2 separate regions of the Homo sapiens genome follow, and region 2 is linked to region 1. Evidence: fine-mapped expression QTL. A gene starts in region 1. The other region holds a variant in brackets. All regions are shown on one strand. Distances are from middle to middle.

What was found. PIP is the estimated chance that this variant, and not a neighbour inherited with it, causes the effect.
Region 2: its variant is the best candidate, but not a certain one, in a credible set for the expression of TMOD2 in whole blood (TOPMed, PIP 0.73).

Annotation. Positions count from the first base shown.
Region 1 is chr15:51,748,414-51,753,791 of GRCh38, reverse strand. It overlaps TMOD2 (tropomodulin 2), which reads right to left and starts at 2,195. Exons shown (of 10, transcript NM_014548.4): 1 at 2,080-2,195. It also overlaps a transcript of LYSMD2 not described here. RefSeq lists silencers at 1,782-1,841, 1,872-1,981, 2,032-2,461 and an enhancer at 2,572-2,641.
Region 2 is chr15:51,711,877-51,717,254 of GRCh38, reverse strand. It overlaps SCG3 (secretogranin III), which reads right to left. Exons shown (of 12, transcript NM_013243.4): 11 at 3,842-3,922. Among named protein-coding and RNA genes, the nearest start is that of LYSMD2, 23 kb to the left of the region's middle. The variant G/A (reference allele first, on the strand shown) is at 3,105.

The DNA of each region.
Region 1 (5,378 bases):
TGTTCTGCTACCCCTATCCTTTTTTTTTTTTTTCTGACACAGCTGAAAGTTGCAGATGTCATGACACTTCACCTCCAATATCCACATCTCCAAAGAATAAGGATTGTCTGGTCTAGGTAACCACAAGAATGAACTATTATTGCACCTAAGAAAATTAACACCAATTCCATAATATCATCTAACATGCAATCCATATTCAAACATCCCCAACTATCTCCAAATTGTCTTTTATAGCTTTTTTTTTTGCATCTAGGATTCAAAGTTCACACATCCCAATTCACTATTGTATCACTTGAGTATTTTAACCTACAATAGTTGCTCCCATTTGCTCTGCCCCATCGCCAAGTCTTTTTGCAGGAACACTACAGAGGTGAAATTATGCCTCCTTATTGCTTCACAACGGGAGACTCGCAGTAGATGCTGCTAAACTTGGTCATTTGGTTCCAGTGGTGACCTCCTAATTTCTCCATTGTAAGGACAAATTTTCCCAGAGTAAACTGTGGTGAGATACTTTGAAATAATATGAAAATCCTATTCCCCAACCACCTTTCACTCAAAGGTTTTGGACCAGTTGGTAAGTCCTTGCCTTATTCAACTGTTATGTTAGGTTTGCAGAGCGCCGAGTTCCTGATTCTCTCATTCCTTCTATTGCATATTTCTTTTTCAAACAATGATCCATCAGTACGCAACTTCTCTTTTCTGTGTATACACATTCTGGTTACTTCTTGCTGGGGCTTCCTCCCCGACCTCCATGCTGACCACATTTGACCACTCGTGCCCAGCCCTAGGGAGCCACTAATCCTTTATCTGCTGATCCCATCACTTCACCTTCAGCAAATTAAAGACAAAAACAAACCCCATCATTTTGTTGCCCACCAATGTACAGTACCTTACAAAAATTAAAATGATTGCAATGCGTATTTATTGGGTTAGACTGAAGAGAGTCGATCGAGAAAATCAGTTTTATCTTTAAAAAAAAATCAGATTGCTGAAGCTCTGAAAAATCTTTCCTCCTCACTAGGGTAGAGGCGCTTGTTGTCACAATTAGGCTTTTTGTAGTGCTGTTAAACAGAAACACTCTCATCTTTTCAGTTCCCTGAGAGGGGAGAATCTTGGAAGAACAGAGGTTTACAAATCATTTAGCCCAAACGCCCCTTTACATGCAGAGGCCCAGAGAGGTGGAGGGACTTGCCCAGGTCCCTCAGCTCCTGAATGGTCAAGCTAAGAGGAGAACCTGGTTTTTAAAACACCTCCCCCGATCTTCTTTTCATTCCCGTCCTAAATGCCTCGTGATTCAGATATGTAATGGGCACAGACGAAGCTGCAGTAAGCACGGCCTCCTTCACTGCTAATTTGCATTGTGACGGCATCACCTTCCTACCTCTGAATACTCTAAAAATTCCCATTAGAAGCCTTTTATTACTGTTTTAAAAATCCACCTTCATTTCCGCAGGTCAACAGGGAACATTTAGGAAGCCTCAAGGGAGCACATACTACAATTACTTTAACCAGAAAAGTAATAACAATAATAATAAGGTTCTCGAGGATCCGCACGAGGCCGCTTACTGGGAGGCTGAAACGCCCTGCGAGTGACAGCTCCAGCGATCTCAGGAAAGACGCCGGCCAGTCCACCCCTCCCCATCGCCTGCTGAACGAGGCAGGGAGATGCATACCGCTCCAGGAGCTCACCAAACATGCACAGGAAGGGGAAAAGTGGGGGAACAAAGCCCGGAGTGGAAGAACACAGCCCCGCAGCCCGGGAGGACAGGAGACCGCGCCCTCCCCGCTGCGGCCCAGCGGGCTGCAGAGGCTGCGGCACCGCAGTGCGGGGCGCGGGACTCACACCCCGGCGGGCGCCTCCCGCCCGGGCGCAGCGCCTGGTCTCCCGGCGCAGCCGACCGGGCCGGGAGGCGAGAGGCGAGAGGCGGCCCGGCTCTGCACGCCCGCCCGGCCGACCGCCCATGTCGCGGAGCATCCTCCCGCGGGCAGGGAGGGCACGGCGGCCACCGCGCTGCGGGCCCGGGGGCTGCAGACACCGGCTGTCCAGAACAGGCCCCACCCGCCCCCCGGGGCGCTCACCCGTCCGTGCGCTCATCCCGGAGCCGGCTGTGCTGGCCGTCAGTCCGTCAGCCCCGGTGGAGCGGGGCCGGGAGAACAGGGGCGGCGCCGTGGCCGGGGCGAGCGCGGCGATCAACAGGCGGCTCCCGGCCGGGCGCGGCGCCGGGGCGCGCGGCTGCAGCGGAGCAGGCTGGGAAGCGTAGTTCCCGGCTGAGCCTCGCCGCGGCCCCGCAGTCCCCCAGCCCCGCCCTTCCCCGACAGGTGTCCTCTCCCGGAATCGGGGTCTGAACCCCGCCACAGCTCTGCAGGGGAGGAAGCACCTGGGTCGGGGAGAAGCCTGGGCAGGCTCTTTGGAGACGCTCGGGGCTCCGGAGAGCGTGGATGGCAAAGGCTTTCAAGCCTGTGATGAGCATTCCTGTGAGCGAGCATCCTGACACGGAAGCCGCGTTGAGAGCGGTCTCAGGTACAGACCCCGCCCGCCCCAGGTTTTCCTGGCTGGGCGTGGGCGTGGGAGGAGAGAGTAGTTGGGTTGGCAGCCTAGGGAGGGAAGGAGGTAAGCGAGGTGGAAGTTAGCAAGGCTCTAGGGTGATGGCGTGAGGGGCTGGAGAGCCCAAGCGCAGTGGCGGCTTCACTGAGGTGAGACCGGACAACTTAGCCTGTCTGAGCCTTCGCGTCCTCATCTGTAAAACAGGCTTCAAGCTTGAAAAAGTGTTGTGAGGATTAAGCGACCCATAGCACTTAGGATCTGGCACTTAGTGCATACTCAGTGAAAGTTCCTTCCTTGGGGTTTCCGAGGGAGTTCTTGGGCCGGGAAAGTCCTATATGTCGTGCTAACCTAAAGATAGTTGGACCTCGTTGGGCTGGGTAAATGTTAAAATCCACTGGGTTTGTTAGTCGTTGAGCCCGTTCACTTCATCCCTGAATATACCCTGAGATGTTCTGTCTGCCAGGTTCTTGAGAGCTCCAAAGATAGAGAAAATAAAGTCAAGTTTCTGAAGCATGACAGCAGAGTGGGGTGACATAGGACAAAGACCAACATTATGAAAATACATGGCATCTAGATTTAACTTCCAGAGGCCTTTTCTAATTAGATGTGATATCTCTCTCCTTCTTGAACTTTTGCAGCATATTTTGAGCATAACCTTTGCTTATGGGACTTATCTTGGCAGTCTAAGGTTCGTTGAGTTTTGCAAGTTGCTGCTATGCAGTGTTTCACATGATGGTGGGATTTGCATTCACAGATGTAGTGGAGGAAAATGAACCAAAGGGATGGATGCAGCATGGCTGGTGTAATCTCTATATGAAATTTTAGGCAAAATGTGAAAAGAGGTGAAACAGCTTTATAGTCTGTCTGGCACGAGGTGTGCAGTAATCGTGTGGCCAAAAAAACGTGCTGCAGAGGAAATTCCACATCTGAAAATGATAACACTGGTTTGCATTTATGAAAATACTTTCCTATTTGTGTTCTCATTTGATTTTTACAAGAACCCTTGTGAGACAGGCAGAGTGAAGGTATTTTTCCCCAATGATAGTTAATAAGAGGCACAGAGAGGTGATGTGACTTATTCAAGGTCATAGGGGTGTTCAGTAAGCCTGTCTTCTCTCCTTCCACTGTGGGCACCCCCAGCACTGTCTCCCTTTTGCACATTGCAAAATAGGGCCATACCTTCCCCAGCAGATGGGTTGAACCAGAAAGTAAAGTTAATCCTCTAAAACTCTGGGAACTAGCATGATGAACACTGGCACGCAGTGGCTGCTGACTGAGAGACCAGTGTTGTTTCTATGATCAATTGTGGTAATGGACTATATCTTGGGCCTCCTGTCAGAATGACAAATCTGAGCCAGAAAGAGTTAAATGAAATGGGGGTGTGACCAAATTACTTTAAGTCATGTTCCCAAGTTTTCCTGTACATTTGTTATTCCGAATGTCCTGTGTAACCGACAGGATGCCTTTGACTTTTTTATGTTGTACATTTGTTACAGTCATAGCCTTCTGTTAAATAAGAACAGGGCTGCTTACGGATCGAGCCAGCAGTTTTCCCAGAGAAAGCTGATAGTAGGCATATGCTGAAAATAATAAAGCAATTTCATTCATATTGGAAGAAAGAGTAGCAAAGGTGCTCAGTAGTGTACAGTATTTCTCTTTGGTTTCCCGTGGTTCTGCACGAGGAAAATGGCTGCATGTGATAAAACGAATAGAGTATTCCTTCAGAAACTAGCCATGAAAGGAAGCAGACAGGGGAATGATTTAAGTTAAAGTCATGTTCGGCAGTCGAAGCAGAGATACAAGAGCTATCCTACAGCCCCAGAGCCATGCTCCAGGAGGATGCTGACACCAAAATAAAGTGAGTTGTGAAAAGAAACTTCTGATCAGTCTCTGTCTGTATGATGAGTGTTGGAAGCTGGAAGGTGTTAAAGGATGAGTGAGGGAAGTAGAACATTTAACCTAATGTTAAAACTTAATGGAAAGATATTACCAGTTCCAGTCTGTTTAGCTCTTTAAATCTATTGCCTATGTCTTATCTTAAGGAAGAAAGGATGTCAATATGCCTATGACTTATCAGTTGAAACCCATGATCATTTCTGGACCATATCTTGTAAGTTTAACTTTTCTACTTGCTTTTTAGAAGATGAAAATGTAAAATTGAAACAGAACTCCTGGAGCTGGAAGGGACCTTACATATCATTTTGTGTAGCCATTTCTTCCTGTAAATGAGGAAGCTGATATATTGACTGTAATTGTCAAATGGCAGAAAGGAAAAAAGTTCAACGTGGCAGTTATAATGAAGTATTTTAATTATTCACAGTGGAATATGTAGCACACCTCATTAGGAACAGGTAGTAGACACTGTTGGTTGTCTATTAAACATTCAGTCCACCCTCTTCTTCTTTATAGAAGCCTATATGGGTGTTTACACATTAGGAAAGGTGACCCTATTAGCCTCTGAGAGGTACACTCTCAAATCTATCATAGACAAGAGGAATAGAATCCTCTTAACTGGCCTGTAAGAGTTTAGGAGTGGACATGTGACCCAGTTCTGGCCATTGTAAAGAGATACGATGAATCTGGGTCGGCCATATTGTTGTTGAGTCAGTCATCAACCAGCCCCAGTGCTGCCCTTCTTCTGGATTTCTTGTTATATGAGATAATAAATAACCTTATTGTTGAGTCAATTTGAGATGGAGTTTTCTGTTACTTGAAGCTGAAAGCATCCTAAGTGTTAAAGATGAAATGTGAAAGTACATTCTTTGGATGGACTGAAAGACTGCTTCCTAGAGTTGATTAAAAACAACCACCACAAACCACAGGCAATGTGATG
Region 2 (5,378 bases), 37 kb after region 1:
CTGGGACTACAGGCACGTGCCACCACGCCCAGCTAATTTTTGTATTTTTAGTAGAGATGGAGGTTCACCATATTGGCCAGGATGGTCTCGAACTCCTGACCTCATGATCCACCCACCTCGGCCTCCCAAAGTGCTGGGATTACAGGTGTGAACCACTGTGCCTGGCCCACCTGGCTAATTTTTAAATTTTTTGTGGAGATGGGGTCTCGCTATGTTGACCAGGCTGGTCTCAAACTCCTGGCCTCAAGTGATCCTCCCACCTTGGCCTCCCAAAGTGCTGGGATTACAGGTGTGAGCTACCATACCAGGCCCACTCTAGCAAATTAACTGAACCCTAAGAGGAGGCTGTGGAAACCGAAACTTGAAGCCAGTCAGCCAGCTGTTCCAGAGGCCTGGACATGCAACTGGTGCAAAGGAAGGGGCACTCTTTTGGGACTGCGCCCTCACCCTGTGGTGTCTGAGGCTGACTCTAAGTAGATAGTGTTGGAATTGAATTGAATCAGCGGACAACCAGCTAGTGTCGGCTGCAGAATTGATTGCTTGCTTGGTGGTGGGGAGAAACCCCCACGCATTTGGTCACAGAAGTCTTCTGTGTTGATTGTTGTGTTGAGTGAGAGAACAGGAGAAAGCACATTGTTGCTTTTTCCACACTCATGGGTAAGCATTAGTATCCTCATTTCAGAGATGAAGAAACAGAAAAGGGGGTAAGTTACTTGCTCAGGTAGTGGTAGAGTCAGGTTCTGAATGCTGGTCATTGATTGACCATTCCATAGCCTTGTAGTACTGACTATAAAACATCTAACAGGTACAAAGCAAATGTTCAATAAATGCTCATTTTTATTTTTGTTTTTCACTTTTCCCATTCTCTCAGGCACGAAGTAGAGAACGAAGCTGAACATACATTTTGCAGGCACCGCACCTAAGGCGATGATTCCTTTATTCCTGACCCCTAAGGCACAAAGGGCACTTCTTGTTTATTCCTGGTTCATTAATACTGCCTCTGCAGAATAGGCTGCAGTGTCAACATCTTTAATGGAATAAAAGGCAGACTCCCGCTAAGTGATTTTAATGTGCATCAAAGTTTGAAAACCACTGCCTTGCTGGGCGCGGTGGCTCACACCTGTAATCCCAACACTTTGGGAGGCCGAGGCAGGCGGATCAGGAGGTCACGAGATTGAGGCCATCCAGGCTAACACGGTGAAACCCCATGTCAACTAAAAATAAGAAAAATTAGCCAGGCATGGTGGCGGGTGCCTGTAGTCCCAACTACTTGGGAGGCCGAAGCAGGAGAATGGCGTGAACCCTGGAGGCGGAGCTCGCAGTGAGCGGAGACCGTGCCACTGCACTCCAGCCTGGGCGACAGAGCGAGACTCTGTCTCAAAAAAAAAAAAAAGTGCAGACTCCCAAAGACAGATGTGAAGAGGTCCAGTGATTTGAATGGACAAACAGGCAAATATTTTGCTTTCTTTTGAAAAGGAAAAATTGTTATCTTTATGACACGGCTATTACTGTGTGCAGTGGGAAAACCAGCATGGTGCAAAGGAAAGGCCCTTTGGTCTAATGCCAACTCTGCCCTAGCTGGGGGTTAGGAGACATAAGCCAGTAGCCATCTTGCTAACCTTAAAAGAAGTTTTAAGGTTGTAAGGCTCAAAGGAGAGAAGGGCTGTGATTCGCTTTTTAAAAGCATATTTTTTTAAGGCTACATAAGATTTTCTCATTATCCTCACTATCACATCACATGGACCTCCCTTTCCTGGGTTTGGGAAGGGGATTCAGGTCACCCAGTCCCTTACCAAACAAAGGGTGGCAACAATGGTTAAGAAAGGTCAGAACTAATAGTAATTCTCCCTGCTTATACAGCTGCAGCCACTGCATGACCCTAGGACCCAGATCCCCCACAGGCTTTGAGAAGATGACCCCAAGTCAAGCCGAGCGCATATGAGAGCAGTGGAGAAAGAGCTCTGTTTCTGTCTTCAAGAGGGCATACTGCATATTTCCCAGAGACAAAAGGGAGCATCGAACCCAATGCCAGTTTGCTAACAGAGCCTTCCATATGCAAGCACCAGAGTTCTATGCTTCACCAGGTTGGTCATTTCTGGAATGGGAACATTGAATTGCAAGATGTTGTTGATTATGACCAGGAGTCTGATTCATATGCTAATCAGTGAAAACAGTAACAAATACTCCAAATTGATGTACCATACAATTTATCATGGCTTTGGGATGTATTTTGGCACACAGTGTACTACAGTGATTCTAAGATGAACATTTTAATTTTAAAGTCTTTGCAGTCATTGATGGCATGTTGTAATTTAATGGCACATAAAACAATGGTGCATTTTTAATCAATGACAGATTCGATGAAATATGGTTCATGTAGATTTTAATGTAACTGACAGCCTGGAAATTCAAATCATTTTGAACCAAATAAAGTATGCATGAACATCGATAATTATTGCCATCATCACTCAACTTAGAAGACCTAAGCTACCAGGGTGCTGAAAATACCTCTTTCTCCCTCTGTGCTGTATCTCAGCGGTTTGCAAACTTGGCTGCACGCTGGAATAACCTGGGGAGTTGAAAAAATACTGATGCCAGAGCTGTGTCCCCAGAATTTCTGATTTAGTGGTGCTGCAGTGCAGCCTGGGCAGTGGGATATTTAAGAAGTTCCCCAGGTGATTTGGATGCACTTTAAAGTTTGAGAAGCATTACTTGTTTCTTAGGAAGGCATCACTTTGCAACTGCTCTGGCCAGATACCTGGGAATCGTGTCAGAATCCTCCTTCTCCACATGGCTCTTGAGTTCCTCCCTTCCTTTTTATCTCCTCTGTTGTCCCCTGGTTTACAGCCCCATATTTCTGCTCCAGATCTCTCTGTCTTACCTCCTTATCTCTCTGCTGCCTTCTGGGGTCTTATTTTTTCAATCTGTAGTCACACTGCTGCCAGATGGATTTCTCAGCTCTTAACCTAATTAGGCCCCAATTTAGGCTCCCTTGGCTAAAACCAACCTTCTCTGAAGAGTACATAAATGTCTTCCTGGCATGGCTACTGCCCACTTCCCAACCCTATATGCTGCTCTTCTCCACAAACATCCACTGTTCCTGG[G/A]GACATGAATGGCTCCAGTTCCCAGAACCACCCCTCTGTTTTGTCCCTTTATGTCTTGGTACCTAGTGTTCGCTCTGCCTCCATCTCTCCTCACTCGGCAGATTCATCCTTAACTTTCCAGAGAAGACTTGTGGCCCTTCTCTCAACTGTCTCTGTCCTAGTATGAAGATCCATCCCATCTTCTCACCTCCTTGGCAGTAACACACCTATCCATGACATCACTGAGCAGGGCCAACCATAGCTCTAATGACGCTGTGCATTCCTTGGGCGGGACATCTCTGGCACTTAGAACAGGGCCTGGTTCTGTGTTTTGCTTTATGTAAGCGAGTGACTGCTTTTGTGACTGCAGGGTGCACAAAATTTGTGCTCAGAAAATGCCTTTGTTTAAAATACTCCAAGAAAGGGGGGCTAGATAAAACAAGACTGGCAACATTTGATAATTATTGAAGATGGGTGCTGGAGACACAGGGATCCATTATGCTATTCGTTCTACGTTTGCTTGACATTTTTCCTAATAAAACGTAAAAGAAAAGAAAACGCCTTTGCTTGAAAGGCTAATTTGAATAATAAGAGAAATGGAGGTTCTGTTCCCCTCTGTATCTGACAGGTGACTTCAGTCTTTTTTGGGCTCTGCGGGGAGACTTTAGCACAGTCAATTTGACTGTGGGAATTTTTATATAACAAGAGCCCCTGACAAATGGGTGAAGTTTGCAATGTACAACCACACTTGGTCCTACCTTCTTTATTTCCCTTTTTGTCATGTTTCTTCAACCATTCAATATTTTTTCTGATGGCTTCCAAATAGGCTTCTGTTTTTCCTGGAAGAGGTAAGAGAACTATATCAAACACTCAGGAAATATCACTACATCTCATTTTAAAGACCACACGTATGTTCAGAACCACAAATATTAGACTTATGCAGCATTTGCAAGGTTGTTTCCCTAACTAGGTAATGTACATATTTGTATGTGTCTATGTGTGTTTGTGTGTTGAGGGGTTTAGGTCAAGGAGAGCAGGTGCGGATGAGGTTCCAGGAGGAAGAATCAAGTTGGTAAGTGTCAAGGGGCATGATTCCCACACACAAATAAATCCACCTTGATGTCCTGGCAGAGAAGAGTTTTGATTCAGTTTACTAGATAGATGGGTCCTTAGATTAGTTCATTTCTGGTTAGGGATGGTTCTTCCAAACTGAGGAGCATCATCAAGCCAAGGACTTGAATGAGAGTGGCAGATACTTAAAGATTCCATCACTTCAGTTAAAAGTCCAAATGTGTGGCTTTGTGTAAGCAGCTCTAAGTCTTCTGCCCAATTCTGGCAGGGGGCGGGCAAAAACTTAGACAAAGAGGCGACCAGTGCCTCACTTCAAGGTTTGGATGGCAAACCTTAGAACTGGCTCTAATAAAACTCCCCAGGATGTAAACACTGTTCGATGGGCCTCAAGTGTGGCATGAGAATACCAGGCATCACTCATGCACCTACTCTGTGATGCCCTTTACCTGTACTGATGTCTGCAAGCGGATATTACCATCCACTGAGAGATGAGGAATCTGGGGCTCAGAGAGGCGAAGTGAGTAGGCTAAGGCTACACAGGAAATAACAGCTGGCATTTGGACTCTGATCTGCTTAGCTTCCGCTACCTGCATTCCCTGCAGGATAAGACCTCACCTTCAGACATGGACAGTAATGTTGCTTTGTTCTATATCAAAAAAATCAGCCACTCTCTTAACCAGGTGAGGCCCTAAAGCTTAGGGAGTCAGCACCAAGAAACCAGGTGCTCTAGAAAGTACCAGATGGCTTACAAAAAGAGGCTTTCAAAGTCCAGGGCCTCTGCAGAAGCAATAGCTGCAGAGCTCAGTGTGGTGACCACCCCATTCTGAGCCCCATCTGAGCCCTCTTACCTCTACTCTACTGCACAGCCCTCTTGGTTGAGCTACCTGTACTGTGTGCTTATCATGTACTGGGGACTGCTTTATGCTCCAAAATGCATTGTCTCATTTATTCTTCACGACAACTTTTTGAGGCAGTCTTATTATCATCCCCATTTTACAGATGAAGACACTGAAGCACAGAGACATAAAGTCATAATCACATGACTAACAAGTAGCAGAGCCAGGCTTGAACCTGGGTACCTCCAACTACAGTCCATGTACAATAACACTGCCCTAAGAGTTGCCCATGTTCCAATTGCCCGCACTGTATTTACCTAAGTGACTCTCTGAGCATCTTTCTTCCTGATCTTGAAGCCCACTCTTGCCTTACCACCGAAGATCTGTG